2 separate regions of the Homo sapiens genome follow, and region 1 is linked to region 2. The links come from fine-mapping of genetic effects on plasma protein levels. A gene starts in region 2. The other region holds a variant in brackets. All regions are shown on one strand. Distances are between the middles of the regions.

What was found. PIP is the posterior inclusion probability: the model's chance that the variant is causal. The UK Biobank Pharma Proteomics Project read protein levels with antibody pairs (Olink). The fine-mapping took linkage between variants from a reference panel, not from the people measured, so its PIPs are less certain.
Region 1: its variant is fine-mapped to the plasma level of the PGLYRP4 protein (UK Biobank, PIP 0.97).

Annotation. Positions count from the first base shown.
Region 1 is chr1:153,291,885-153,307,716 of GRCh38, forward strand. It overlaps PGLYRP3 (peptidoglycan recognition protein 3), which reads right to left. Exons shown (of 8, transcript NM_052891.3): 3 at 15,182-15,383; 4 at 13,063-13,181; 5 at 11,973-12,125; 6 at 10,525-10,723; 7 at 7,229-7,347; 8 at 5,232-6,250. The coding sequence ends at 6,072. Among named protein-coding and RNA genes, the nearest start is that of PGLYRP3, 13 kb to the right of the region's middle. RefSeq lists an enhancer at 1-49. The variant C/T (reference allele first, on the strand shown) is at 8,546.
Region 2 is chr1:153,348,099-153,363,020 of GRCh38, forward strand. It overlaps PGLYRP4 (peptidoglycan recognition protein 4), which reads right to left and starts at 743. Exons shown (of 9, transcript NM_020393.4): 1 at 430-743. S100A9 (S100 calcium binding protein A9) reads left to right here and starts at 9,756. Exons shown (of 3, transcript NM_002965.4): 1 at 9,756-9,783; 2 at 10,171-10,335; 3 at 12,546-12,925. The coding sequence starts at 10,186. The coding sequence ends at 12,740. RefSeq lists silencers at 4,578-4,627, 5,653-5,702.

The DNA of each region.
Region 1 (15,832 bases), 56 kb before region 2:
GACTAGGTACGTAGTATGAGTGTACTAACTGGGTTCCTGCTTTCACAGAGCTTATAATCTAGTGGGAAATTCAGATGATTAAAACATGTATACAGACAGAGAGAGAAAAACACATAAATAAGTAATTATAAGTGAACATAGTAGAGGGAAATCCTAATTTGGGGACCTCAAGAGCTAGGCTCTTAGATGAAGTGGCACATGAGCTGAGCACTGGAGAGAGAGGAGGAAACTCCCCAGCTCCCCTCCCAGGCAGGCAGCTGCTTAACTTTTGGGTACCAGAGGGCTCTCAGCCACTCTGAGAGGGAGCCCCAGCTCCCCACCCATGGGGTGACACTTCTTACTCCAGCCTACCATGGAAAGTTCCCAAGAGGTCCCTGTCACACGTCCTGGGAGCTCCACCCCTGCCCACCAGTCCTTCGACCTAATAACACCTTCCCCTCTTGCAGGGCCAGGCTCTAATTAACGCCCCGCCTGACGGAACCTGCTGGGCCAGAAACACACTGGGTGTGCTCAGTCTGGCTCCCAAATGCATACCTTCCCCAGAGCCACCCTGCCCCTGGCCTTCTGACCCTCTCCTCCCACTCCCAGCACCCCCGCAGCCCTGGGGCAGGGTGTGGAGATGATTTTCAGGGCGCAGCGAGGAGATAATTTGTGGGTGTCTACTGTACTGAGACTCAGACCCACTTCCCCCACTAATCCTTTCACACTGCCATATTCTAGATGTTGGTGAAAGAGAAGAGAAAGAATAAAGACAGGCACGAACAGGAGCAGAAGGGCAGACAGACAGAAAATGAGGAGCATGAAGAAACAGGCAGGGAGGCAGCGTGAGAGAAAAGAAGAGGCCGAGAGGGAGGGGAGGGAGGCACAGACACACACAAGACACAATGTTGGAAAGAAAAAAGCCCACAACGTGAAGAGGAAGAGCCCAGGAAGCATGGGGAAGGGTGGCAGGAAGCTCAGGAAGAAAGGTTTTCCTAAGTCAGCCAGTCGGAAGAAAGCCACCGCCAGGGGAGCAGCTGCAGTTGCGTTTCCCGCGCACCACACCCCACCACACCCACCACCCACAGCCCCAGAGGCTGCATCCACCACAGTGAGGGGTCACAGGAGCCTCCACAGGGGCGGGGTTGGAGGGCATTGGTGCTGGAGAAGATAGGATGTCTCCCCCAGATCTCACCAGCAGAGGGGAAGCCGCCAGAGGGTAAGGGGGAAGGATGGCCTGGCATTAAGAGGGAGTTCCCTGTGAGAAATCTGCGGAGGCTCAACAGTGGAGACACTGGGATTTTCCGCTCTGCGGTAAGCGTCTGAGACCAGCTGAGGGAGACACTGCCTCTGCCCAACCCATCCTGGCTTTCCTCCTACAGACGCTTAGGTGGCCCCAGCAGTGTGCCAGGCCCTGTACTGGCCCAGGAGACGGAGCGAGGGGAGCAGGTGCAGCCCTCGGGGAGTCCAAGCCGGCAGGGAGAAGGCACGCGGGCAGCAAAGAGGCACTACGAGGCCGGGGCCGAGTCCATGGGCGCTTGCGGTGGGAGACGCCATTTCTAGTTTGGAGAAGCAGGTTCTGGAAGAGCAAGCCTTTGAAAAGCAGCTAAAAAAAAAAAAGTGGGATTGGAGAGGTCAAGAGAGGGGAAGTTGTGCAGGCAAAGGCAGGAACATGTGAAAGCCCAGCGTGTGAGACTGCAAGTGACCCGCACGGGCTTGTTCTGTGGGAAAGAGATTATGGAGGCCCTAACCGACATACTCGTGTGTTGTTAGTTGACTCAGTGGGGAAGGAGAGGCCATACCATGATTTTAGCAGAGGGGTGATAGGAATCATGCCGTGCCTCAACCTCAGAACCTGGGTGCTCCTTCCTCTACTTAACTCATGGGGCGACTTGAACAGGTCATCTACCTCCTTCCGGTTCAGTGTTCCGTGAAACAGGAGGCTTTAACCAGATTGATATTCACTATGCTGGAACCAAAGAAAACTTTGGAGTCTTTTTTTCCCAGCTTATAATCATGGACAACCACTGAGTCGATGAGCTCTGGGCCCTTCCCACCCTGACAATGCCGGGGGCCATGAAGGGGCTGTGCCCCCTCCTTCACCGTGGGCTGCTTCAAACCTGCCCCACCCACTTGCAGGCCTGCCTGGCTCCTCCCTGCTCATCACCAGGTCTGGGCACAATCTGCACCAATTTTCCCCAGGCAGCTGCGGTTGATGCCCACGAAGGCACATCCTTCCTGCCACAGTCAAACAGGAGTAACAGACAGCAACAATCACACGCCTCACCCGATGCCAGTGGAATGGTTCTTCAATGCTGAGCACGAGTTCTCAGACCCTTACACCTGATCATTCATTTAACCCTGGCGATAATCCTCTGAGGGGGGTGTTAGTATTGCCCCTCACTCTAAATGATTAAGGGGAAGCTGGGAAGAATTTCTCTATAAAAGAACACAGGAGAAGCAAACTGCCTGGAATAAGCTGCCTTGAATTTGCCTTGGAAGAGCGTTTGCTGGCTGGGCACAGTGGCTCACGCTGTAACCCCAGCACTTTGGGAGGCCGAGGCAGGTGGATCACAAGGTCAAGAGATCAAGACCATCCTGGCCAACATAGTGAAACCTCGTCTCTACTAGAAATACAAAAATTAGCCAGGCGTGGTGGCAGGCGCCTATAGTCCCAGCTACTCAGGAGGCTGAGACAGGAGAATTGCTTGAACCCAGGAGGTGGAGGTTGCAGTGAGCCGAGATAGTGCCACTGCACTACAGCCTGGGCAACAGAGCAAGACTGTGTCTCAAGAAAACAGGAAGGAAGGAAGGAAGGAAGGGGCATTTGCCGGTTGAGTGCTCTGATTTTACTTAGTATGTTTAAGATCAATAAAAGTAGATAATTTGGGAAAAACAATAATCCAGACCATGCAGTATTTTTTCTTGAGACAGAGTCTTGCTCTGCCGCCCAGGCTGGAGTGCAGTGGCGCTATCTCGGTTCACTGCAACCTCCACCTCCCGGGTTCAAGCAATTCTCCTGTCTCAGCCCCACGAGTAGCTGGGACTACAAGCACCTGCCACCACACCTGGCTAATTTTTGTTTTTTTAGTAGAGACGGAGTTTCACCTTGTTGGTCAGGCTGGTCTTGAATTCCTAACTTCAGGTGATCCACCCGCCTTGGCTTCCCACAGTGCTGGCATTGCAGGCATGAGCCACCGCGCCCAGCCAATATTGTTGTTTTGAGGCCTTCATGAGTGCTGATGGAGTTGGGGAGTCTACAGTCTCTTCTAAAGTTCATAAGGGATGGAGGTTGGGGAGGGAGGTCAATGAGTCCCTAAGGCCTGGGAATGGTGTTTAAATCAAAAAGAGGAGACCCTCTATTTTGGAGGATTATAAGGAAGGCCAAGAATTATAAGGATACCTTTTTCATGAAACCATTTCTCAGCATCTCAGTCTACCCCTCTGGCTACTTCCTGCATGAGGGGATGTTAAACTCACCCCTGCTGGGGAAGGTTCCTCTGGGAAGCCTGTGCCCACACCCCACCCCTCCACCAGAAGGGGGCTAGCAGGAGTGTCACTTCTTACTGCAGGAGGAAGACCTTTCACTACAGGAGTTCTACTGGAGCCACCTTCCTCTGATTGTATAAATGGAGCAAGAGTTCTGAGTCTCCCTGGGCTTATGTGACCCTCTAGACAAACCACTCTTCCCCTGCTTACATAACCAGGATGCCATAGGGCAAATGACAAATGGACAGAATCAATCTAATGAGATCGGAGGGACCGTTTTGAAAGCACAGAGCTGTATACAGATTAGGCCGTTAAAGCCTGCTTTGTAAGAGACGTGAAACACTGGAAGCAAAGACACAGCATCAGTACTCAAAACATGTACAGGGGGAAGAAAGCCCATGTTTCTGGCACCCCTTCTTCCTCCTTCCCTCTTTAAACCAAAAATAAAGCTCTAATCCCCACAACTGACTGACGAACCTCCATCTTGGCCAAGGGTATTCCAAAGGAAACCTGAAAATCTAGTTCAGGCCATGTTGGGAAGTGGGGTCAGACATGGCTCATTATACCCTTCTCCCTTAGGGATTCAGGCACAACTGACCAGCATTAACCTTAAAACAGAGATCTTAAGACTGACCAAACAGACTGTTGCTATAAGATATCAACATGACAGTTAGCAGATCCTGAAAGAAATTGAAGTATTTTACCCCAAACTATATTTATTTGACATATTTTGAAATGGCCCTGTAAAGCTGTCTCTTGTGGGGAAAATTCCCATTCTGTAGAGAATTCCCTTCCCTCTCCAGGTCTTTTCCCTGATCCAGGAGAGAATTGACTAAGAGTCTGGCTCCTTTTAGGTCTGATAAGAGCTCCGCAGCCTGCTACCTGGAGGTTTCATGTGCATGATAAACCGTGGTCTCCACAATCCCCATCTTAACCCAGACATTCCTTTCTATTGGTTGGAGGTCTTTAGATAATAACTCTTTCAACCAATTGCCAATCAGAAAATCTTTGAATTCACTTATGACTTGGACGCCCCCCCCGCCACCCACCCACCTCCTGCTTGGAGTTGTCCCACCTTTCCAGCGAAACCAATATACATCTTACATGTATCGATTGATGTCTCATGTCTCCCTAAAATATATAAAACCAAACTGTAGCCTGACCACGTTGGGTACATGTTCTCAGGATCTGCTGGGGCTGTGCCACAGGCCGTGGTCACTAATATTTGGCTTAGAATAAATCTCTTCAAATATTTTACACAGTTTGACTCTTTGTCAACACCTTCCCTTGTTTCCAGATCAAAACCCGTGAAAACAAGAGCCAGCTCACGTGCTTCCGGTAAACAGCAGTACGTCATCATGCCCCCATCTGAAGAAAAGGAGCTTCCCTCTGGGCAAGAGGAGCCCAGGTAGGGAGGGCTACAGAGCACCAGGGCTCTGGGCTCTCTCTCAGCCCAACACCCAGTGGGACCCAGCCAGGCAAGGGCAAGTGGCAGGCACTGGGCAGCTTGTGTGGACACAGCCCTGGCCTGACCCAGAGAAGCACATGCTCCCTGCCTTCAGGGTGCTCTTGGGGGACATGGACGCGAGACCCTAACAATACAGCCACCATTACAGACAGACGACCAGAGCCAGCTCTGAGCCTTGGACTGGGAGGGAACAGGAACAGAGAGAATGCTGCTGGTGGGATGGGGACACTATCCAGGAAGGCTGCCTCAGAGGGGAAGTTCCGAAGCAAACTGGCAAGGTGAACAGGGACCTGGGTCCACTCATTCATTTATTCATCCATTTCTTTAACAAACATCTGTAGAACCTATTAAACTCCAAACACTGCTGAGGAACTGAGGATAGAGATGAATAAAATAGAATTCCTCCCTTGGAGAAACTTACAACCCAGAGGAGAGGACAGACATATCTATAAATCATATCTATAAATAATTACAGCCCTTAAGTAAGGGCTGCATCCAAATATGTACCAGTCCATGTGTGAGCAGAGAGGGGGGGTGGGCACACTGACCTAGGTCATGGGTGAGGGATGAAGGGTGGGGGCTTCCAGGCAGAAAACAGGGAAGGCTCACCAGGCAGAGGCGGGGAGAGGGGGAGAGAGAGAGAGAGAGAGAGAGAGTGAGAAAGCAAGAAAGAAGGTGAAAGGAAGGAAGGAAGGAAGGAAGGAAGGAAGGAAGGAAGGAAGGAAGGAAGGAAAGAAAGAAAAAGAAAGAAAGAAAGAAAGAAGAAAGAAAGAAAGAAAGAAAGAGAAAGGAAGCAAAGAAAGAAAGAAGAGGAGACAGGGGTTGGGGGGAGAGAGAGAGAAATGCCACAAGGACCAGCCCATTGTCTCGCCTGACTGAGGAGGTAAGTGCCCAGGGGAGAGGTAGGTAAAAGAGAGGGGAAGTCTAAACTCAGACCAAGAGGGCTGTGAATGCCCAGCTGTGAGGTTTGGGGGCTCCTGGAGGATGTTGGCAGGAAAGGACATGACCATTCAAACCTGAGAAAGGATGGGCTGGCAGGGGAGGGGGACACAAGGTGCTGAGCCACCTTGGCTGGTGAGGGTTGGAGAGACCCAGCAGGGGAGGGAGGGCAGTCTCAAAGGGAGTGGGGCCTCCTTCAGTGCTTGAAATGAGGCCAGGTGCTGATGATGTTATACAAAGCCTGCCCAGGGGACAGGATGTTGACCACGTCACTGTGGCCCATCAGCAGGTAGTTTGGAGTCAGGTACCCCTCAACCACGGCACACTGGATCAGGTCCTGGGCCGCCTCCAGCGCTGCAGCATTTGGAGGCTTTTCTGCAAAACACATTTTCCCCATCAGTCATTAGGGGCTCAAAGTTTCTTGATTAGGGAAGGGACAAGCACCTAGATTCCAGTTTCTTTCTTCCTCCACCACGCCCCATTCCGCCATCACCATAGCCAACACATTTACGTAAATTGTGGCAATCAGGCACAAAAAGAAAACAAGGTCATTGCTTTCTCTGATTCCTCCGTGCCAAAGTTTCTTCCAGAAGGTTAAAAACTGCTGTGGAGGGGGCCAGGTGCAGTAGCTCACGCCTGTAATCCCAGCACTTTGGGAGGCCAAGCAGGCGGATCACGAGATTAAGAGATCGAGATCACCCTGGCTAACATGGTGAAACCCCATCTCTACTAAAAATACAAAAAAATTAGCCGGGCGCCTGTAGTCCCAGCTACTCGAGAGGCTGAGGCAGGAGAATGGCGTGAACCCGGGAAGTGGAGCTTGCAGTGAGCCGACATCACGCCGCTGCACTCCAGACTGGGAGACAGAGCGAGACTCCATCTCAAAAATAAATAAATAAATATAAAAAACTGTTCTGGAGGAGAACTGCAGCACAACACACCACTTCTGAGCAGGTATAAAGCAGATACAGCACCACTGGGCCGCCCACTGGTTTTCCATAACAGGCAGTGGTGCTCCCCAAATTGTTGCCATGGCTAACAAGAAAGGGGACACATTTGCCAACTGAGCGATAAAAGCACTGAAGTTTGCAAAAGACGTTTCCCCCCTTGCTCCATGTTTGCCTTGGATATAAAGCAAGGTGGAGCTGGGCATGGGGATGGGTGGATTTGGGGGTAAATGCTCTGTCTGAAAGGGGATCCTGGTGACATCCTGTATTAAGAGTCCACTTTAAAGCTAAAATGTTCCATTCACACTGCCAGGCACTACAGGGCTGCCTTTCCCGCCATGCTTCCCAGACATGCTGCATGGTCCTTCAACCCCCAGCACCCCTCTACCCCATGCTCACCCCTTACCTACAAAGTAGCCGATGAAGGCAATTCCTAGGGCAATATCGTTGAATCCATAAGTGTGAGAGCCTTGGATGTGCCATCCAACCCCTTCATACACGCCACCATCCTGGCCCACCAGGAAGCTTAGGTCAGGAAAAGAAAATGAAGACAGTCACTCTGGGAAACAGAATTTAAATACTTCATTCACTCCTTCAACCACTCATTCATTCTTTCATCCATTCATCCAATATTGACTGGAGATCTCTTATGTGCCAATGTGGACAAGGACAGAAAACAAAACAAAACAAAAAAATACCACAGTCCACTTCAACCTGGCCTTTGTTCCCATCACACCACTAAATCTGACCCCTCCAAGGTGAGCAGTGGCTTCCTGGCACTAAGTACAATGGACACTTACTTTACTTCTAGACTACACTGACCCTGTTGACCACTCTCTTAAAATGTTCCCTTCCCCGGGCTTCCACAACCACAACCCTCCTTGTTCTCCTCCTCCTGCTGCTCCCTCAGGCCCCTCTCCCACCCCACCTTACCTTCCTCAAACATGGTGCTCCTCCGCACTCTAGTCTAGGCCATTCTCTCACTCAACGTATTCACCCTGGACAATCATTGCCACAGCTTCAAGTACTACCTGTAAAAACAGTCCAAGCAAACCCACCTTCTTCTAAAATTTATCCAGCTAGAAAATTGGACAACACCCTGAATGCCTTCTACCCCCTCACTCAGCCCACCTGGTCACCAATCATGGCTTGTCAATTGTATCTCCTACACAGCTTCTAAATTCCTCCACTTCTTTCTAGACCAACTGCCACGATCCCACTGCAAGTCACTGGATCACTGCAATAGCTTCCTGCCCAGAGTTTTGCCTCCTTCCAACCCATTCTTAAAGTAGCACCCAGAGTGATTTTTCTAAAATACAAATCCTATCATAGAGCATGACCTCCCAAATAGTCTGCAGCTGCCTTTCAAATTGAGTCAGTCTCTCTGAGTCTGCTATGAGGCCCTCCGTGATGTGGCCCCTCCCAGGCTTTCCCACCCTTACTACTCACCACTCCTCTCTTTCAAATCTATTTGTAATGCTCTGTCTGAACCCCGGGCCCTGGCAAATACTGTTCCTCCTCACCCAGACACTCTTCCTCCTTCTTTGCCTGAATAAACCCCACTGCTTATCCATGTCCCAATGAGGATACTCCTCCCTCTAGAAGCCATTCTCAGACCCCAATCACCCCCCACAAAGCCTTGATTAGAGACTCATCATATACATTATCCTGTTCTGCATCCATCACAGTGCTCAAACACTTTGACTTGTAGTTACTTGTTAGC[C/T]CTCCTTCTCTCATATCTATCAGTGAAAGTTGTCAGAATCAAAATGGAGTCACTTGTGTCAAACTCTAACAAAAATAAATAAAGCCAGGAGGTTGAAAAGGGTGGACCCTCATGCACACAAGCCTACAATAAGAACTAGCACAAAGACTCTCTGAAGGACTCTTACGCACACAAGCCTGTAACAAGAACTTTTGCCAAAAACTTTCAAAACTGCAGCTTGTTACTAGTCACAAGGACATCTGGCTGATGAAGAACACTTGCCCAGCACACTGTCTCCACTAATGAACTGGTGTCACCTCCCGCGATAAGTTCCAATGTTCTCCAGTGTTCCCTTTATTTCAAAACAAACTTTTGCCTTTTGCCTTTAAAAGCTTCCCCTAGCCTGAACCTCTTTGGATATGCCTGTGGTTCCTGTAGCATGCATATCCCAGATTTGCAAATTCCCTTTACACTCTCAAATAAAATACTTATCTTTATTCTCTTGCTTTTGTTTTTGTCTTTTTCAGACAGGGTCTCACTCTGTTGCTCAGGCTGAAGGGCAGTGGCACAACCATGACTCACTGCAGCCTCAAACTACTAGGCTCAAGCGATCCTCCGTTTCAGCCTTCCAAGTAGTTGGGACTGACTACAGGTATACATGTCACCACACCCAGCTAATTATTTTATTTTTTTGAAGAGATGGGGTCTCCCTATGTTGCCCAGGCTGATCTCAAACTCCTGACCTCAAGCAATCCTTCCGCCTCGGCCTCCTAAAATGCTGAGATTATAGGCATGAGCCACCGTGCCTGGCCAAATTAATCATCTTTGGAGAATCTCTCTCTGTTTGTTGTTAGATTGATATATCTCGTCTAGCACCAGGCATATAGTAGCTATCCAATAACTATTGATTAAAAAACTAGAAAATAATGTGTGAGTGGGTGCTTTGTCCTGATTACAGTCCATATCAGGGTTACAGGTGACATATCATGAGGCTGGAGCAGAAGGATATTGCAACAGGTTTTGAAAAGTCAAGGAACGGGGATGGAGTCTCTAAAGACTGAGTGAAAGAGGAAAACAAACATTCCCTCACCTTCTGGCATTTTCCATGTGGAATTTCCAGATTTTTAGTCAATTTCTTGTTACCTGTGCTAAATAACCATAGAAAGCCTATGGAAAATCCTGCAAAGTGAAGCAAGAGTTCCCTCCTGTTTGCAAAGGCTGCTTTTAAAACAGGAGTTAAAAGGAGAGATAGTAGGCCCAGAACAACACATGTGCAAAAGCACATCTACCTGAGACTTTGTAAGATTTGTTGTGATTAAGTCACAGATGAATAATTGAAATACATTATACTCTAGCCCTAAATCCTTCCTTTGAAAATTCCAAGACATCTTCCAAGCAGCTTCTTCTACTCCATTAGTTTAATGTGTTTCTTTATTACAGACCTGGCATTAAAGGTACCAAAAGAAAATGTTTTGATCTTGCTCCCTGTCTTCAAACAGATAAAGCATTGTCCCTATTGTAGAGATGAGACAAAAGAGGCCCAGAGAGGTTAAAAGTTCCTACATCTATAAAATGAGGTAAGTAACACCAGAGGAATAGCAGGATTCTAACATCGGAGAGAGCAAGTTTGGAGCTGGGCAGACTGAGATAGGAGTGAGCAAGGCCTTTGTCTCTGACAGGTTAGAAGGGATTGCATTAAAAAGGTACAACCCTTCATGGCCTTCCCTGAGGGTATCACAGTCTTGCTTTATCACTAGGCTTCTAATGCCTTCTTTTCAGAATCTTCCCAACCACTTGTGGAGATACGTCCAAGCGAGGTAACTGACCATTAGCTATGCTCTGAATGATCCTCAGCCCAATCTTGCAAAAATAAAATATGATGCCTTATGGAAACCACCCAGCCCAAAGGAGAGGCTCAGGAAACATCAGTTCCCTCCCACAGCCTTCCTTCCTACAATCCTGAAGAAAAAGAGGGTTCTTTTGGCATTGATCCCACTTACTGATATCCAATGTCACAAAAGTTCCGTGTGTCCATGTGAAAGGACTGTATGTTTCGGACGACAGTCTGGCAGTCTGTGGATACAGTGCAGCTTGTGCCAGCGGTGTGGATGATGATGACATATTTGGCTGGGAGGTTCATTTTAGGGCAGTGTGTCTCTCTGGCTTCCCAAGCAGATCGTTTGATGATGTTGGGGCAAACTGTGGTAAAATGAAAAGCCAAGGAAGTAGGAATTTTTTTTGCCTCTCTGTGAGCAATCACTCAACTCCAGGCTGGATTATTCCTCAGCCTCTCCCAGGCCTCCAGCACCCACGGGCACATCCTAATGTAATATCAGCTTTGGGATTCTGGGGAAGTCCAGTTGGGAGGTTTCTGATTCAGATGGCTGGAGCCAAGGGGCTGAGGCAAAAATCTACAGGCCTGATACCAATAGAAATCAGCGTATAAGCAGAAGGGAAAGGGCTGTGGGTTATACAGAGGCATGGTCATTGTCTTCAAAAGACCATGCATTGCAAATATATATGCAGGTATGTGCGCTTATGTAACAGGGCTACTACGCGGAAGTCAGTGGACTCTCCGAACTGATCACACATATTTGGAAACAACTTGAAATCTAGAGAGAACTGTACAAATATTAAGAAATTATCATTATTGAAGATAGTGCCTGTCCAAAAGCAAGAAACATTTTATTTGAGATTTACAGTTTTAAAAAGCTAATTCTAAAAATATCATTGATCCCAAGAAAAGGTCCACTAGCAGGAGTGCTTATTAATTTGACTGGTTTTAGGTTGCTGCTTATTCACTTCAAAATAGTGCATTATTTTTATTACTCAGCTTTTTGTTATATGCACTCTGATGTCAGCATCATCTGTGAGCACAAGCTTTTCTCCGAGCTGTGGCTGTGCTGTGGCCATGGCTGGTTTTTGCATTTAGAAAGGTATGTAAGCTTATGTATGTCCTTCGTGTCCCCACATAATAGACACAACTATGTATACATGTTAATCCCACTCCATTCCCACTCTATTTTTCTCCATAGCTTTTATGCCGTCTAACATCATATACATTTCTTTGTTATTTTGTTCATTTTCTGTCTCTTCTCACTGAAGTGCAAGCTTCCTGAAGGTGAAGAGTTTCATCTGTTTTGTTCACAGCTGTATGCTCAGTACTTAGAACAGTGCCTGCTATGCAGTAAATATTTGTTGACTGACTGAAAATCTGTGTACATATGTATTTGTTTTAAGAAGAAGTCTATGGCTATCTCATTCTGATGGGATGGAGAGGAGGCCAGGAAGATGCCCTCTCAGAATTTTCCAGATCTCAAAGTAGGCATGAGATGTTCTTAGTCCCAGAATCCCATGGGGTCTAACAGGAAAAAGCACTCCCAAACATGACTCCAAACATGGCTAGGTGGTGACGAGGAGGAGGGTGAGGTGACATGGAGGGTCTTACCCTTCCTGGGCATCACTGGATGTTGAGGGTCCAGGCAGGTCTCTTCTTTCAGAAGAAGTGGCTGAATATACCTGGGCGACAGGTGACCCTTCTGGATGGCATAGGAGATCAGACCCTCTGCAGCTGATAAGGCAGCAGGGCTGGGACTGCTGCCTTAAAGAGGAGGACAGGGAGCACAAAAATGTCAGTAAGAAACTCCACCTAGACCAGACACCTGCAGAAAGGATGATATGACCACTTGAGCCTGAATAACTGGATTGGAAGAGAGGAAACTGGTCCAGTTGCCAGAACAGAGTGCCTAAGAGGCGAGAAGCTACCTAGATCTCTTAGCAGCCAAGGTTGAAAACTTCTTCCAAGAGCCAAGCTAAGACTTTATCCACTCCATCTCTAGGCAGAAGAGCTGGAAGGCAGTGAAGGATACATGCAAAGGGAGGCCCACCTGACCAAGTCAGGTGTGCACTAGCACAGGAGAAAAGGCAACCAGAATTTACTCATAGCTCCCCTGATCAGGTGTGCAGTAGGCTTTTTATATCTGTTAACTCATAACTCTCACAGAAAACCTCTGAGAGAAATGCTGTTACCTAGCCCCAGCTGTCAAATGAGGATGCTGGCAGGTGCTGGTTCCATATGTATTATTTCTCAGCTCCATCCCTGTTCTGTGCTTTTCTCTATTTTTCTAGGGGCTAGAAGCCTGCAAATTATACCTCCAGATTTCCTTGCCTGCTGCCTTCTGGTCACTTTCTACCAGTGGAACTGGAATAAGAGATGAGCCATGCTTCTCTGCCTCTGGCAGTCACAGCATCTATGTCAGACAACCTCAGACTTTAGAAGTGACAGCAATAACCGTGAGCTCAAGCAACGCCCATGCAAGCTTCAGCAATATCACAGGAGTACAGACCAGTAAAGAGAGGCAGAGGACAAAAAGTATGCATGTCACAGGATCCAAAGGAGAAAAGAATTTCAAGAGAAGGGTGATCATCAGAGAAGGTAAGTATGATGTAGGGTAAAAAGATGAGTGTTGACCCTTGGGAGTGGAGGAAGAGAGTGTACACAACTCTCCAGCACAGGGTCCGCAGGGAGTGACCCTTACCTATCTTATTGCCAAAGAAGGCGATGCCCAGGGAAATGTTGTTGTAGCCCTGGGTGTGCAAGCCTTGGATGTTCCAGCCAACACCTTCATACACCCTGCCATCATCCCCAACCAGGAAGCTGACAAGAAGGAAATAATGATTTTACTGCAAATCTCCATAAATGAAAACCTCTCACTGATCCTCAAAAGGAAAAGGGGTTCTGGAGGCTCATAAGTAAGTACTATGTTCCAATAACAAAACAATAGGAGGTGCAGAATAACCAGTTTTAGACCTCCAAGAGACATGGGAATATATTTTAATTTTTGTTGGGATTTAGCTTGCATGTGTTTTCCAGAACCTCACTTCAAAAATACTCATTTGGTTCAAAGTGGAATTTGACTGCATGACACTCAAGGACCTGAGGACATTAGTTCAATGCTTTTCAAGAGCTTAAAAATTACTACATCATGTTTTTAAATTATAGGACCAAACACTTGAACATTCTCTAAAATAATTATGCCAGATTCAATAGTTCCTTTTGTATTGATGTTTTTCTTCAGATTCTCTTTAGGAATTTCCTTAAGCTCTTCTTTATCATAGAAATTTGTTTAGAATGTTCCTTTTTCACATTTACTTTTTAAATCAATTTTTTATTCTACTTCTTTTATTCCTGCCTCTTTATAATTTCTCTCCTCCACTTTCCAATCAGTCTTCAGAATTGATGTTTTCACAACTTTGCCGTATTCATCTTTTAATAGAACATGAGTTTCCGCAGCAAACTGAACACAGAAAGAACACCTCCCTTAGGTCAAGGAAAGACACTGAACTGAGTCAGGCCGACTTTCCACCCTACACCGATGTCGACATGAGGAATGGGTGTGGAGCCTGGTGTGTCCACCCCTTCCCTGGCTTTGCTGCCAGTACTTTCACAGGTTCCTTGGTCACTCCTGCAGCAGCCTGTGGTTAGTACGGTGTGAACAGTCCCTTACAGCTACTGTCAGCTGCATTGCAAAAACTGGAGATTGTCAAGTTGTCACTGTAGAAACCTGACTTAGAGATGCAGAGGCTGAAATAACTTAGGAATACAGTGACCAAACCAGAAAACACAGCAGCGACAACAGCAGGATGGTGGAGGTGCTGGTGGCAGGGGCAGCAGGTGAGTCGTGGTTGACATGACATGCCCCATGGGCAGACAGGGAAGACCCAGCCATCCCAGGGGTGCTGGGGGCCAAAACCAGGGCCTGCAGCTGCTCTTATTTATTTGTGTTTAAAAATAAATAAATAAATAAATAAGACTTAGATTTTCCTTTCCAAAATGGATAATTCAGAAATTATTTATGTTTGTCTTTAGAGTTCCATGCGGGACAGCCCCATTCCCACTCTCTCTTTCCCTCTCCTTCTACATGTGTCTCCTCATTCTTGAGGCTAAGGGAGAAAAGGTTCTGGGCTTCCACTGATGATCCCCAGAGCAGAAACTCAATGCACAGTGCACAGCTCCTTCATGCCCTCCCTTGTTTCTTGCGGGTCTCTCCTCCCCGCCATTCCCAAAGCCCACTCTCCCCGGTGGGGTCCCCGGACTTGCTGTCAGAGTGGTCTTTCAGGGTAACAAGTGGGACACTGCTTCCCAGGTGCGAGTCCCTGTGAGGTGGGGAGGAGCAAGGGCTACACTGGCAGGTGCTCTCACACAGCTCTGGGTACGTGCTTCCTCTCTCTGAGCAGAGCTTTTAATTCCCCCAAACCATGGCTTTCCCGCCTGTGAAATAAGGGTAGGAATATGGGTAGGAACCCATTTCTCAGAGTAGCTGGGAGGGCCAAATCGGGTGATATTTGTGAAGACCTCTGTAAACTGTAACGTTTCGTGAGTTCCAAGGACTCAGTTAAAACTGCAGTTGTTACGTAACCTTCCTTGCTTTTTCACAGGAGCACCAGAATCGAAAGCCACTTAAATAAGTGGCTTAGAGTCATCCCTCTTACAATCCCCGAAGGATTCGGATTTTGTTTGATTCCCCTTTTACCATTTCTATTCATTACAAAAGCAATGTAAATGAAGCGCAGAAAATAAGAGCCACAGAGAAGGGGAAGTGGGAAGCACCCCCGTGACTTTGGATGTGGGCCTCAGGGACTTGGCTAGCCTCTTACTTGTACGCCACGTCGCACCAGCCTATGGTGTAGACGGAATGGGACTGCAACCCCCGCAGCATCTGGCTGCAAACGCTCTGCTGCTGGCACTGCATCCCTGGGAGCTGGTCTGTGATGATGTAGGCCACAGGCAGGGTCAGCAGGGCCCTGCAGGCGAGCGGTCTTGCCCCCCACTCCTTGCGGGAGACGATGGTGGGAGTATCTGTAGGGAAGACCACAGAATGGCACATAGCAGGCCCTGCCCATCTTCCCCCAACAGGTCGACCATGTGCCCTGACCTCTCATGCTCAGGCCCGACCTGCCCCATGCATGGGAGACACCCTGGGGGAGCCCTTCACCACCAAAGCCCCCTCCTTCTCTCCACTGTGGCTGAACCACTGCCCAGACACACGCTGCACTCAGCCTGGGAAGTCGTGCCGCCTTGTTCCCAGACAATCTCTCCTTGTCTTTCCCTGAAGGGCAAATCCCATCCCCTACTGCCCCCTGGCCTACATGCTCCCCTCCTTCAGAAAGCACCCCAGCCAACCCCGCCGCCCACCCTGGGGCTCTGAGCTGCCTCCTTAGCCCAGAAGCCTGAGGATGCATTTTCCTCACTGCCATTTGCCCTGGTCTCAACTGTGTCTCTTGTCTTCCCCTCCCCTAAGAACCATG
Region 2 (14,922 bases):
ACCTGCTTCAGTCTTCTCAGGGCCCCCAGCATACAGCAGGTGCTCAGCATCCCTGTCCTATTATTACCCGAGGAACTCAATTTCATCACGTGCCCACGGCGTGCAAGGCTGTGTACACACTTGCACATGCAGTCTTATTTAATTAGTCCTCACACTAATCCTGTCATGTAAGACTGTTAACCCCCATTTTTACAGACAAAGGAAGTAAGATCCAAGAATGGTACAACCGAGAAATCCAGACTCATATGGATGGGTCTTATGCAGAGAATCCCTTCCCAGCTGGGAATATGCCAGATGAGGGAGATATAGGAGTAGGAGGGGTTCCTAGTTCTAGGGCAGAGGAAATCCAATCCTTAACACTCTTTCTGGTGGATTCCAGTCCCTTTGCTGGAAGAGGGCTTCTGAAGAAGAAACACATACTCAACTCACAGATATCTGTGGGTCCTGTGCTGTCCCAGCCCAGCAGGTCAGGGTGCAGTCAGCTTGCCCCTGATTGGCCAGCAGCTCCTTCCCTTCCAGACTTGGCCTCCAGGCCCTGCCCTTCTTCACCAACTGGCGCCTTCTCCTCCAGCCTTCACTCTCCCTAGCCCTAGAGGGCACTCCCTCCCTGGGAATGGAGCACTCGGGCTCTAGCTTCCCAGAGAGAAGAGAGCCCAGGATCCCTAACAAAAGATGGGGAGAAGGGAAGACAGAGGGCAAGGCTCTGAGCCAGCTCCTTTCACAGCACCTGGAGAAATGCAAGTGGGACCAGACTCAGGCTGAGAGCACCTGGGGACCCGCCCTGTGAATAAGCCCAGGTAGCTCCTCCCTGGGAAAGGGCAAGATTGCCCAACACTCCCGAGAGCTCGTCCTCAGCCCCAACCTGGGAAAGCCTGCAGGGCCTGAGGGTTGTGTCTGCAACATCTAGAAACTTCCTGCCTGTGAAGTTCTGCTCCAGGAGCCTGAAGACTGTGGATTGAAGTCACTCACCAACACCACCTTTTACCAGGGTCATGAGCAGGGTCAGGATGGACAGAGAGAAACTGGGAGGTACAATCTCAGGAAACAGCTCACGATGCCTAATTCTGCCCCAATAGCTTACATGTCTGCCCATCATCCTCCCGCCTGCCACTCCCCACCGTCGGCATCAAGCTGCCACCTACCACAGAAAGCCTCCCACAAACCAAGAATCTCCAGCTCCTCGCCATGTTCCAGTTGTCACCTAATCTCATTCCACATTCTGCAACCTGGACTTACAGCCCTTGAGTCTTCACAGAGGAAACTCTGCATGACACTTTCCAAGAACGCAGTAGGATGCAGTCTCCACGGGGACCTGCAGAGCCTCTCATGTCCCGGAGGGTGGGGCAGCCTCCCTAGACACTTAGGAAGTGCCCTGAATCCAGAACAGTTGCTCTCAGTGAGCTGCAGTCCCACTCTCAGACTGGGCTCCCCAGGAGCGCTCTCTGGATGGGGCCCATTGAGCATGCGCCAGGTCTACCTGGCATTCATCCCAGTCATGCACCCAGACCCAGGCTGGAGCTGTGTGATGAGCAGGGGCTGCTGAGCTCTGTCCTGGGGTGAGGGTGAATGTGGGGCAGAGCCAGAGACAGAGATGAAGGAGACCAAGAACTGCAGCCTGGGACCAGCACTGTAGGGACCCTGGTAGTTTCCCCAGCCTGGCAACATGCTGTTTCTCCATGCCTTTTGCTGGCCGCCCATCCTAAATAAGTAGAACAGTTCTCAAAATGAGAAGGTTTCTGGGCTTGCATCCGGGGCACCAAGGACTTGAGGAGACTCGGTTCCCCTTTTTGGAGCGGCTTGGGGAGGGGAAGCCCAAGAAGAGATTGGGTGGTGGCTGCCAAAGGGGACCAACAGATTCTCTGCCCCATCCAGAGACCAACAGATTCTTGAGGACTAACAGACTGAGGGCTGTCCGGGACGAGGGCATCGGGAGGGAGGAAGAGAGCAGTGTGGGTTGTCCCTCTCTGATTCTGTGAACTCAGAATCCCGAGAGGACCTCCTAAGTCCTAAATTATCTGGCCCCCAGCCCCATCTCACTCCACGCTGCCAGAGCAGGCTCCCAGTGCTCTCTGCCCCACCTCCCACCATCTCAAGACCCTTCCCAAGTGCCCAGCCTCGCTCCCCACCTGCGCCCAGAGGCTCCACTTCAGCCTGGCATCTTTGGAAAGGGCTCCGTGACTAGTTGGGACTGGTAGAGGCTCAGAGTCTCTCTTCTCCATTCTAGCACCTGAATGAATTGTAATTATAATCTCCTCAAGAGCAGTTCCCAAGTCTATCTCTTTACCTGCCTTTAATACTATCATTATTTATATTTACATTTTTTTGTCCTCTGTCTTAAGCCTCCCTCCAGCTGTGAATTTCACAGAAGTGGGAATTTACTTTATTCTGTAGTCTCAGGGTTTAGCTTAGTGTCTGGCATAATGCTGACACATGTTAGAAACTCAATAAGCATTTGTCAGATAAAGAAGGAAGGAAGGGAGGGAGGGAGGGAGGGAGAGAGAGAGAGGGAGAGAGAGAGAAAGAAAGAAAGAAAGGAAAGAAAGAAAGAAAAAAGAAAGAAAGAAAGAGAGAAAGAAAGAAAGAAAGAAAGAAAGAAAAAAGAAAGAAAGAAAGAGAGAAAGAAAGAAAGACTTAAACAGGACACTCTTTTAAAAGGTGTCAAAAGAAGAAATGGAAAGGAAAAGCAAGCCAGCACACCGACCTGCCTCAAATAATGCATACCTTCAAGTACCTAAGGCAGTGGTTCTCAAAAAGTGGCCCAGGGGAAACTGGGGGACCCCAAGACCCCTTGGGGGGGTCCATGAGATCAAAACTAATTCCAGAACAATATTCTCTGAACTTCCCACCACAGGAAACTGCCCACAAACCAAGACTCCCGGCTCCTCACTTTCCTCACTGTGCTGATATTTGCACTGATGACACAAAAACAATGGTAGAAAAAACCGTTAGAGACATGAACCTATGTGTGGCGTCAGACTGCACTAGCAGTCATTGTATTCTTCACAATGTATTCTTTCAAGAAAAGGAGGCTCACTTAGGAATGTTTTTGATGAAGCAGTGAAAATTACTCATTTTATTAAATCTCAACCCTGATTCTCTCAAGGAAAAGCATTTGTGTGCTACAGTTGTGAGCTGAACCAGCCACTTTTCATGGACGCCGTGAACAAATAACATAGAACAAATGATAGCCAAACTATGGATACTCATATTTGGGTATGCGGCATACATTTTCTTGAAAATTAACAAAGTGAGCCTTTCACTTCCGGGAAAACAACTACAATTTGTTAGCATAATAAAATTGGAGCTTTCAGTCAAAAATTTGAATTTTGGAAAATTTGTGTCTGCCACCATGAGTTTGACAGCTTCCCAATATTTGAAGACTACTGACAGGATCAGTGGTGATATTAACAAATGTGGTGGGGCTTTTTTGCTTTTTTTGTTTTGTTTTGTTTTGTTTGTTTTTGAGACGGAATCTATCTCTGTCGCCCAGGCTGGAATTCAGTGGCATGATCTCTGCTCGCTGCAACCTCTGCCTCCCGGGTTCAAGTGATTCTCCTGCCTCAGTGTCCCAAGTAGCTGAGACTACAGGCATGTGCTACCACACATGGCTAATTTTTTGTATTTTTAGTAGAGATGGTGTTTCATAGTGTTAGCCAGGATGGTCTCGATCTCCTGACCTCATGATCTGCCCGCCTCAGCCTCCCAAAGTGCTGGGATTACAGGCGTGAGCCACCACGCCCGGCCAAATGTGGTTTATTTATATGTGTGTGTGATATATATAAATATGTATATATAGAGAGTAATAAATGATGTCAGCATTTAGAAGACGTACATAACTCAGTCAACCAATATTTTCCAAATGATCAATATATGAAGTCACAAAGTTTGGATAAAAGATCCATTAAATTTTAAGAGGGACCAATTGATTCTAATGTAACAGAGAACAAATAATTCATTGATATGGTTTCAGACTTTACGTTGCAACTAACCTTTGAGAAACCATCACTTGTTGGGTTTTGATGTAATATGAGAGAAGAATATCCACAATTATATATTTAAAGGCTATTAATGTATTCATCCCCTTTGCAACTACTTATCTGTGGGAGATTGGATTTTCTTCAAATCTTCAACCAAAGCAACATACAGCAATACCTTGTATGCAGAAGTAGATGTGATAAACCAGCTGTCTTCTTTGAAGCCATACAGTAAAAAGGTCTGCAAAAATGTGAAAAAAAAACACTCTTCTCACTAGCTTTTGACATATATATATAATTATTTTTAATTGTTTAAAAACGTGGTAATACGTAATGTGTTTATTAATGGTACTTTAAGTGAGTTAATAAATCATTTTAAATTTTTTAAACTTTTAATGTAGTAAATACTGATACATCTAATCCACAAAAGCTCTTTGGGATACTCAATAACTTCTATGAATACATATAAAAGGGTCCAGAGAGCAAAAAGATTAAAAACCTGGGGCCAAAGGAATCCCACAGGCTGTCCTGATGCAGATAGGCCACAAGGTGGCAGCATGCGCCCTCTGATAACTCCGGAGTCACCTTTCACTCACTAGGAGTCTCTGAGCAACCTCTTTTATCCATCACTCCCTTCCACTTCCTTCCTTACCTTCATGCTTCTGTGTGGCACGTCTTTTTTTTTTCTAACTAGCTTTATCCACCAACGCCTTCATAATTACAGGGCATAGCCATCTCCTAAGCATAAGTTCTGGCCAAACCAAGCCAGTCATTCATTTTATTCTGCAAACATTTGTCAGGTGTCACTCATATGCAAAGCTTATCATCCAGGGATGAGTACATTGAGAACACTGCTCTCAAGTAGTTAATAATATAATGAGGGAGACAGATCCAAACGCCAGTGATTATAATGCCTGCTGAGTGTGAAAACCCTTTATTCTTTACAAAGGGCTGTGGACTTCAAAGGGAGTCCTGAGAGCAGAGGATGCCAAAAGCCAGATGCTGAGATACTCGCCAAAAATTTCTGCAGAGATCTGGAACCTAGGGACATAGTGAGCGCAAAAGCCAGGTTCCCAAGAGATCGGGGAGGAGAAAGGGTTGGAGCAACAGAAGCCAGGCAACAAAAGGGAATGCCAGCTTTCTCAATTTTGAAGGTGGCATGTCTGAGAAATTAGGAGGATGATGAGCAGAGGCAGCCAAGGTGGAGACAGGGGGAGAGGTCCAGACTTGGGGAAGCTTAGGTTGAATGTCTAAGAAGCCAGATCATTGGAGGGTCCTCACTGTGGATGCTGGAGCAGCCCAGCATGGGGGCAGGGAGTGCGGCTGCTCTCAGCAGAGGGCCTCAGAGACCTCAGGATGGCCAGTCAAGGGAGGCCACAAGGATGCCAGGGGTGGTCAAAGCTTGATGTGGACTGAGCCCAAACGTGGTAGAACAATGGTCTGAAGCTACCCGTGGATAGCTTCTGTAAGTCATCCTAATGCACTAGAGTCTAGAATGAGCACTGGGGAAATGGGGGATGTTAGGGCGCTTGTGGTTAGGAGACCCGTACCCAGAGATCTCCAAGGAAGAGCACTTGGGACTCCCAGCAAGGAGGAAGACAGGGAGTGGAGGAATAGGCAGCAGGCTGTGCGCAGCCTGAGTGGGGCTGGGCCTCAGGCATCAGAGTCCCTGTGAGGAGAGGGACCTGACTTCACCTGCAGGTGGAGCAAGTAAGCCAGGAGACAGTGTCCAGGGGCCATGAGGCTAGTAGTAGTCATGAAGCCCACCAAGAGTCCATCAAAACTTGGAATCTGTGCTAGAAATGACCTAAGGGTCAGCTGTCCCAATCTCCTCATGTAATGGATAAGAAAATGGAGGCCCGAACATGGAAATCACTTCTAAAGACCACCAGCAAGTCTGAGAAAGCTAAGGACTAAAACCAGCTCAGTCCCTCAGTCCGGGTCCCACTGTGTGCCTGCTGTAACACCCCCATTACAACACAGGAGGGGTAAAGCTCCCTGAAAGACCACAGTGGGAGCTGCAGAGAAGGGAAAGACAGACCCGCAGTGGGTCCCAGGCATCTGGGAAAGAGCACAGTGATTTGATGGTAGCTGCAGGAACCTCTGCCTGCTTGTTTGTTTACTTGCTTGGTTGTTTGTTTGTTTGAAATGGAGTCTCACCCTGCCACCCAGGCCAGAGTGCAATGGCGCGATCTTGGCTCACTGCAACCTCTGCCTCCCAGGTTCAAGCGGTTCTCCTACCTCAGCCTCCTGAGTAGCTGGGATTACAGGTGCGCACCACCACACCCGGCTAATTTTTTGTATCTTTAGTAAAGATGGAGGTTTCACCATGTTGGCCATGCTAGTCTCGAACTCCTGACCTTGTGATCCACCCGCCTCGTGCTCCCAAAGTGCTGGGATTACAGGCGTGAGCCACCGTGCCCGGCCACTTATTTGTTTTTTAACCCAAAAAGCCACACCCTTTTCTCCCAGTGAAAACCTCGAGTCATTGTACAGAGCCAGGAAAATTGGCCCACCCACTTCATGCCCTAGCAGAAGGCTCCGACTTTCCCTGGAAAATCAGTACCCAGAGGGGAAGACCCCCATCCCACCATCCCTCAGTCCAACCTCTGGCCTCGGCTGGCAGTGAGGAGGCAGGTGGGTGTCGGCCACCTACTGATCATGCCAGGAATTGTCTGCTCCGGTCAGAACCAGAATGGCTCAGCCCTGGCCTCACCTGCGCCTGGGCTAGCCTGGAACCTGGGGGCCTGCAGTGGCCTTCTAAGATGGGGGCCCACTGTCAGCATCAGATCCCCCAAGTGCAGATTCCCGTCTGTTTTGAAACCCTGACCAGCTGCTCATTCCCACCCACTGCTGAGCCTTCTCTCCCCCAACTCCCTATTTTACTTTCATTCTGAATCAGCACTAAATGACCACAGTCAGTGGCTCTGCAGAAAGTCACAGAACAGAGGGTGACAGGCCAGTGTTTATGTCACATTCACTCATTTCATCATTGATTCATGCACTCCTGAATTTATTCAATCAACAAGCGTTCATCCAGTGCCTCTGAGCCAGCCCTTGCCTGGTGCTAAGACTTTGGAGGGTAGCAGGCAGCATCCCTGCCTAGAGGAGCCACAGTGGTGTGGAGGAATCAGAAAGTCCACCTGAAAGTTGAGAGCTCCATGACAAAGCAGAGATGCCTGCCGCACACCATCACTCAGGGTTTGAGTCACACACACCCTGCTTCATTGTCATGCTTTTTTTGTTTTTATTTTAAATTAATGGACAAATTGTATTAAACAGGAATTTTCATATAAAGCTTCAGATGTCCTGGGCCCTCAGGAGGTCCAAGAACATCTGGTCTACTTTCCCACGTGGCAGCCCTGGCCTGACACTGGCTGTCCCTTCAAGGTAGGAACGTTCTCATTCCCCACAGTTGCCACCACTGTCCAGTGTCCCCAACCCTGAGGCCCCATATCAGTGGCCACAAGTTGCCCTACTGCTGCCGTTGATGTTCTCATGCCCCACCAGCTTCACCTTGGGTCTGGTTCCCGCAAGGGTGAGTTGGAGATCCTTGGTCCTGAGTGAGAAGTGCTTTGTCAGAGGCAGCAGAGGGCGCCATGGGAGCACACAGGAAGGGCGCCTGGGGCTGTGCAGGGACTGCAGAACAGGCTGCACTGGCACACAGGGTTGGCTGCTGGCTGCTGGCTGCTGGCTGCTGGCTGGGTTTCCTCTATTAGCTTAAACAATGGAAGGTGGACTTGGATAGGAAATCTACCTCATGTATTCCTGAGCTGTGTCTGCACCGTTCATTCATTCGTAGGCGACTCATGTATTCAAGCACTCATTTATTTATTAGATGCTTGCTGTGTGCTTAGCACTGTGCCAAGCCCTGTCCTTAGCTACCAAGAGTTTAAAACGTAATTTGGAAGACAGGATATAAGATTATGTCTCCCCTTTGTATTGCGACTCACTCATCAAGTTCTCCCAGCATCTAGCATTCATATCTGGCACTCAGTAGGTGCTCAACAAATATTTGTTGCATAAATGAATGAAAAGATTATTAGTAATAATACCTTTTATTTACTGAGCTCTTCCCAACTTTCCATGTATTGTCGCAATCCTCAAGGTAAGTCCTGATATTATCCTATTTTATTGATAAGAAAAGTAAGGCACAGAGAAGTTAAGTAAACTGCCTAAGGTCACACAGACAGTCTGAAGTCTTAACCACTACTCCAGGTGCATCTCAGCAGTGTGAGGCAGGCCATGCTTAGGGCCAATGCTTAGCACACACAGAGATTGCCTCAGGCTTTCAGAGGACAAAGCAGTCAGGAGGGGCTGGGGCAATAAAGGAAGGCTTCATGGAGACAGAACAAAATAACCAGTGCAGGTAGAAGAAGAGAACCATCTTTCCTGATAGAGAGAGGGGGCAGCAAGCAAGAGGGAGTCCCAGGGTGGATCATCCATACTGGCTTCCAGGGGTGACGGGAAAGGATGCCAGCAAGGACTTCAGCAAGGATCAATCAGCAAATCCGAGGGTGTCTCTCTTGCCAAGCCCCGGGCTGTGTGCATAGGAGAAGGAGAACATGAATGAGAACCTACCTTTGAGGATCTACAGCCAATTGTTGGACAGAGGCAAAATATGTATATAATTTTACTCCAGGAAAGCAAGTGTTGAGAGCCAGAAGTGGTATGAGAATCATAGTCAGGAAGACAGAAACTGTTTCCAAATGGGAAGCACAGAGCAGTCTCCTTGGAAGAGAGTGCATTAGAACTGAGCCGTGGGGGCGGGCAGGATATCACTGTGGAGTAGGGGAAGGGCACTCCTGGGGTGGCAAGGTGGGAGGTGGGCCCTGTGTTCCCACAGTGGGCAGGGAGGTAGTGAAAGGGAAGCTGGCCGGACAGGCAGGGCCATTCCAAGAGGGCTTTGTGCGCAGGGCTAAGCCAAGCTTTCTCCATAGGCAATGGGGAGCAACTGGAGGTTCGTAGCAGGAGAAGGACACATCTTGCCCACCAGGAGGCTAAGTAAAAACAGTTGTCTCCCAAGTTATAAGTTCCTGGAACCCTTGCTGGGAGCAGGATTTAGAAAAATGATGCTGAGAGATGCTAGAAACATATTCGCCCTGAGGCTCTCTCACTCAGACTGCAAGAGGAAGGTATCATCAGAATTGCCCTTAACCAGGAACCAGAATAGCTGGGTCCCCTTCCTGCCAAGTCAGCAACCAGCTATGTGACCTTGCTCAGGTCCATCTCCGGGTGTCAGTTTCTTCATCTACAATGCAAGAGGGTTGCCCACCTCTGAGAACCCTTCTAACCCCAAATCTCACCCTATGAATCTAAGAACACCAACCCCTCGCCATCCTAAGTATCACAGAGCCAGGCAAGCATGGGTGAGAGCTCAGACCATCCTTGTTGGACTAAAAGGAAGGGGCAGACTGCCCATGGGGGGCAGCCGAGAGGGTCAGGCCCCCATAGGTCCTCAGCCTGCTTCAACCTCAAAGGGGATGGGGGGCTGAGTGGTGCCAGAGGAGCAGCAGGCTCGCTCGGGGAGAGTAGGGCCTTAGGATAGAAGGGAAATGAACTAAACAACCAGCTTCCTCCCAAACCAGTTTCAGGCCAGGGCTGGGAATTTCACAAAAAAGCAGAAGGCGCTCTGTGAACATTTCCTGCCCCGCCCCAGCCCCCTTCCTGGCAGCATTACCACACTGCTCACCTGTGAAGCAATCTTCCGGAGACAGGGCCAAAGGGCCAAGTGCCCCAGTCAGGAGCTGCCTATAAATGCCGAGCCTGCACAGCTCTGGCAAACACTCTGTGTGGCTCCTCGGCTTTGGTAAGTGAGCTGCCAGCTTCCCCAGGCAGAAGCCTGCCTGCCGATTCCTTCTTTCCTTCCCTGACCCAACTTCCTTCCAAATCCTCCTCCTAGAAGCCCTCCTTGGTTGGCCCTGCCTACTTTAAAGCTTCTTTCACATTTTCTTAGGTCATGTTCCCCTGGGGCCTCCTGCCCTCAAATGCTTTGCTTTTTGGCACTCTGTAGATATTCTAAAAAATCATTTTGTACATGTGTGTGACAGGCCATCTCCCAGTTAAGTTGCAGCCTGTGCTTTCTTTTTATTTTGCACTTCCCCCACTATTTCTGTGAGTGCTTAGTAGGAAGTGTCAAAGAAGCTTGACAGCATTTTCTTCTAAGTGTCCCAACTCTTGGTTTTCCATTACACAGACAGAGTGCAAGACGATGACTTGCAAAATGTCGCAGCTGGAACGCAACATAGAGACCATCATCAACACCTTCCACCAATACTCTGTGAAGCTGGGGCACCCAGACACCCTGAACCAGGGGGAATTCAAAGAGCTGGTGCGAAAAGATCTGCAAAATTTTCTCAAGGTAGGGCTGGACTCTGGCAGGTCTGACCCAGCCTCACCGCAGTTTGGGTTGACAAGGGAGGATGGGAGTATGGGCTACAGCAATCAAGGGGAAGATTTGAGCTCCTGGAGCCCAGCCCCAAGACGCAGCGAGTGTCCTGTTATACAGGGCAGGTGCTCACAGTTACACAGGACGACAGGGTCAAGAAATTGCTCAATTGAACACCTGCTATTTGTCGGGCCCTGTTCTGGGCAGAGGGATGTAGTGGTAAATGGGGAGCCCACTATTCCAGTGGAGGGAGACACACAGTAAAGTTGTTGGCCAATAAAGAGCACAGATAAAGCCAAATGCCAATAAGTGCCTGGAAGAAAATGAGATAGAGTGCGCTGTGGGCAATGGGGCTGGGTGGGGTGGAGGTGACCAGTTAGGGTACATGAGAAGGGCCTCTTTGAGGAGGTAACATTTGAGCTGAGCCCCGAATGTTGGGGAGGGAAGCCCCTGAGGATGACACTTGGCACAAAGCTGAGGAGACCCTAAGCCTCAGGCGGGAACTTGGGGTGGAAGACTTGGGGGCTTTTCTAATCCTAAGGGTCTGCGGTGGAAAATGAATGCATAAAGAGCACATGGAGAGCACCTGCACAGCACTCAGGGAACTGGGAGGTTTTTCCCCCGCTCCAAAAATGATTAGGCAGTTCTAAGAAAAAGGCTGAGCACTTCCAACAGCCTTTTTGTTTTCTTTTCAAATTTGGGGAAAGTCGGGAAACAGAGGCCTGCATTAAGAAGGGTGGAACACATGGGTCTCAGTCTCAGTTCCAGTCCCGGAGCCAGACATCCTGGGGTAGGTCCCCAGCCCTCCCAGTGCCCCTCCCTCCGCCTTGGTAAGGTGGAGAATTGCAGCCTTCAGAGTTAGGGGCCCTGACAGCTCTCCATAGGTGGAGGCCTCAGGCAGGCAGGATGCTGGGTGGGGTAGGCAAGAAAGGGCCCAGCAGAGAGGCCGCATGGCAAAACTATCCTCCATGTGACCCCCTATGCCCGCTTCACCCCCCACCTGACATCCCCCACCAGAAGCAAAGCGATGCTGTGGGAAAGGAAGCAGAGCCTCATGGATGGGCTGCACAGGAGAGTGCTCGCATTGGCTGGGTACCCCACAGGTTCTGGGAGGGGACTTAGCGAGGTGACTCAGCCAGAGGGTGGCAGAGCTGGAACCAACCAGTGCTCTCTTGGACCCCGCCTGGGTCTGGGTCTTCCACCTCCCCTGATGTCTCTCCTTTTTTTTTTTTTTTTTTTTTTTTTGAGACAGAGTTTCGCTCTTATTGCCCAGGCTGGAGTGCAACGGCACAATCTCGGCTCACCACAACCTCCACCTCCTGGGTTCAAGCGATTCTCCTGCTTCAGCCTCCAGAATAGCTGGGATTACAGGCATGCACCACCATGCCTGGCTAATTTTGTTATTTTTTGTAGAGACAAGGTTTCTCCATGTTGGTCAGGCTGGTCTCGAACTCTTGACCTTAGGTGATCTGCCTGCCTCGGCCTCCCAAAGTGCTGGGATTACAAGCATGAGCCACCCTGTCCGACCATCTCCCCTTTTATACTTTATCACACCCTTGAGGTCAGCGGAGCACATACTCTGCTCTCTGACCCTCCATCTCCCCTGCCCACACCTAGTTTTTCTAGGTGTTTCCCCGTTGTATTGGTTGAAATAAGTTTCACTAATTGGTAACCTCCAGAGGGAAGGGAAGGGAGGGCAGGGGAAGGAGTGAAGTGCAGAGGGGTAGCAGAGTGGAACTGGCCTCTAAGTCAGATCTGAATTTGCATGCCCTCAATAGTCAAGCTGTGAAAACTAATGACCCTCTCTAGGACTGGTTTCAAGTCTTCCTCCAGGAAGATACCATTCCTAGCTGTTAAAGTTGTTATAAGGACCAAATGAGGTGACATTTCCAGGCTTACTCATGCCATGACCAGGGCAAGACCCTGGAACTCAGCTTCCTCTTCTATAAATAGAGAATCAGCACCCAAGTCACAGGGTCATGGAGGGAATAAACTGGAGAGCGTTTGGTATGTGCTCAGTGTCTGCTCCATTGTGCGCACTCAGCCTATGGTCATTTTTAATTTTTAAATCCAGCCCCAGGGTGAGGCTTCCCTTGTACATTTGCCAGCTGGTCATTTACTGTGCTCCCAGTCCCCACCTCTGGCCACACCCAGCTCTCACAGCCTTCTCTCCCCACCCGCAGAAGGAGAATAAGAATGAAAAGGTCATAGAACACATCATGGAGGACCTGGACACAAATGCAGACAAGCAGCTGAGCTTCGAGGAGTTCATCATGCTGATGGCGAGGCTAACCTGGGCCTCCCACGAGAAGATGCACGAGGGTGACGAGGGCCCTGGCCACCACCATAAGCCAGGCCTCGGGGAGGGCACCCCCTAAGACCACAGTGGCCAAGATCACAGTGGCCACGGCCACGGCCACAGTCATGGTGGCCACGGCCACAGCCACTAATCAGGAGGCCAGGCCACCCTGCCTCTACCCAACCAGGGCCCCGGGGCCTGTTATGTCAAACTGTCTTGGCTGTGGGGCTAGGGGCTGGGGCCAAATAAAGTCTCTTCCTCCAAGTCAGTGCTCTGTGTGCTTCTTCCACCTCTTCTCCAACCCTGCCTTCCCAGGGCTCTGGGCATTAGACAGCCCTGTCCTTATCTGTGACTCAGCCCCCTCATTCAGTATTAACAAAATGAGAAGCAGCAAAACATGGGTCTGTGCTGGGCCCCTTGGGCTCACCTCCCTGACCATGTCCTCACCTCTGACTTCAGGCCCCACTGTTCAGATCCCAGGCTCCCTGCCCCATCTCAGACACCCTGTCCAGCCTGTCCAGCCTGACAAATGGCCCTTGTCACTGTACACTGTAGAAAGCAAAAAGGCATATCTCTACCCCTTGATATGCCTGCTACCTCACCAACCAGCCCCAAGCCTGTCTTCACCCATCACTGTCTACACAGCCCTCTCTCTCTCCTAACAGAATTCTATTCCTCTGAAAGTCTTCCAGAAATGGACCTAGATAGTGCCATGTCTGGGGAGGAATACTGGCACCCAGGCAGTGGAAACAAGGACAGATCCGGTGTGTTTACTCTCACACTTTTTCTGGATCCAAGAGAGCAATTGGATCTCTCTTAACAGACCTGCCACCCTAATCAACGGGAGTGCTCACACAAGTGGGAGTCTGAGAGCTTAGCCCTATGCCCACCCTGGTCTCAACAGAATGGCAGAGTGAAGAAATGAGCTCCAGTCCGGGCTCTGCAGCTAAAAGACTCCGTGACTACCAGGAGGAGTCTGTGCTCTGGGTCCAGAGAGCCTGGGGGTCTGAAGATTCTGATTTTAAGCTTTGAGGGCCAGCTGTCCTTTCTGGTGGGTAGCTGAGAGCTGGGCCCAGCACAAGTATCTGCTTCTCTCTGCAAAGCCTACTACCAGGCCTGGCCCTAGCTGCCTCAGGGCTACTGCTGCAGCTCCCCCTTCAAGCTGCCCCAGATCCAAGTGCTCAGTTCAGGGACTCCTCTGCCATCTTCCTGCCCTTTGGCTATAAAGTCCCTTTCCTAGGTTATAACCAGTGGGGTTTGGCCTTCCAAAAACCAGAGTCCAGATCAAGGTCCTCTGACCCCTGTCCTTTCAGCAGAAAGAAGACTCACAGAATTAGGATCTGGGGAAGCTGGGAAGACTAGCAGTCACCTACTCTCCCTTTTCATAAGTGAAGAAACCGAGGTGTAATATGGAGAAGAGACTAGTCCAAAGTCACACAAATGACAGAGTTGCTCAAAATAATGCAGTACGAAAAGTAGCTTGAATCATATCTGCCCCACTGGCTGCACCTCCCCAGCCCCTTCCCCAGTGCAGAGCAGGAAGATATAGAGCTGCCAGTGTTGGATTTCAGCCCTCCCCTCACAGCCTGGCTATGGTTGTGCCCCCAACCTGCCTGTTGCAGACTCCTGCTTTAAGGGCCTGGGGGCTCCGCTCTGGGTGCAGGGTTTTAAGGGCTCCCACTCGAGGGTATGAGGATGTTTCCAGGAACTGTCTCAGGCTGAGAGCTTAGGCAGCAGAGTCTAGAAGCCCTCCTCAGTCCCTTCTGTGCCTGACTTGGAGACCTGACAGCTGGGGACACTCATTTTCTGACAGCCCTTCTGCTCCCATGCTCACATCCAGGGAGGAGTCACTGTCTTCACTCCCTTCTGAACACAGCTTGGTAATGAGGAGAGAGAAGCATCCTGGGGATTGGAGGGCCTTAGACCAGATGCTTCCAGTAGGGTGGTAAGTGCTCCCCCTAGGCCCTCTGCCCACCACTACTTATCACAATGTGCCTAAATATGTTTATGACTCTGCCTACCCCTCCAGACTGATAACTCCAAGAGAGCAAAGTCCATCTGTTTTTTTTTTCTGATTTATTCTCAGCACCTAGAGTAGTGGCTGCTACATAGAAGGTTCTCAGCAAATATTGCCTGTATAATGGCCTAGGTTTCTCACGTGTTCTATGCTCTCTTCTCAAGGGATGATGTGGAGAAAAAAAAGCAAGAGGAGATCAAAACCTGCAAATGGAAGGCTTCTGCATTAGCATTACAGAATCTCA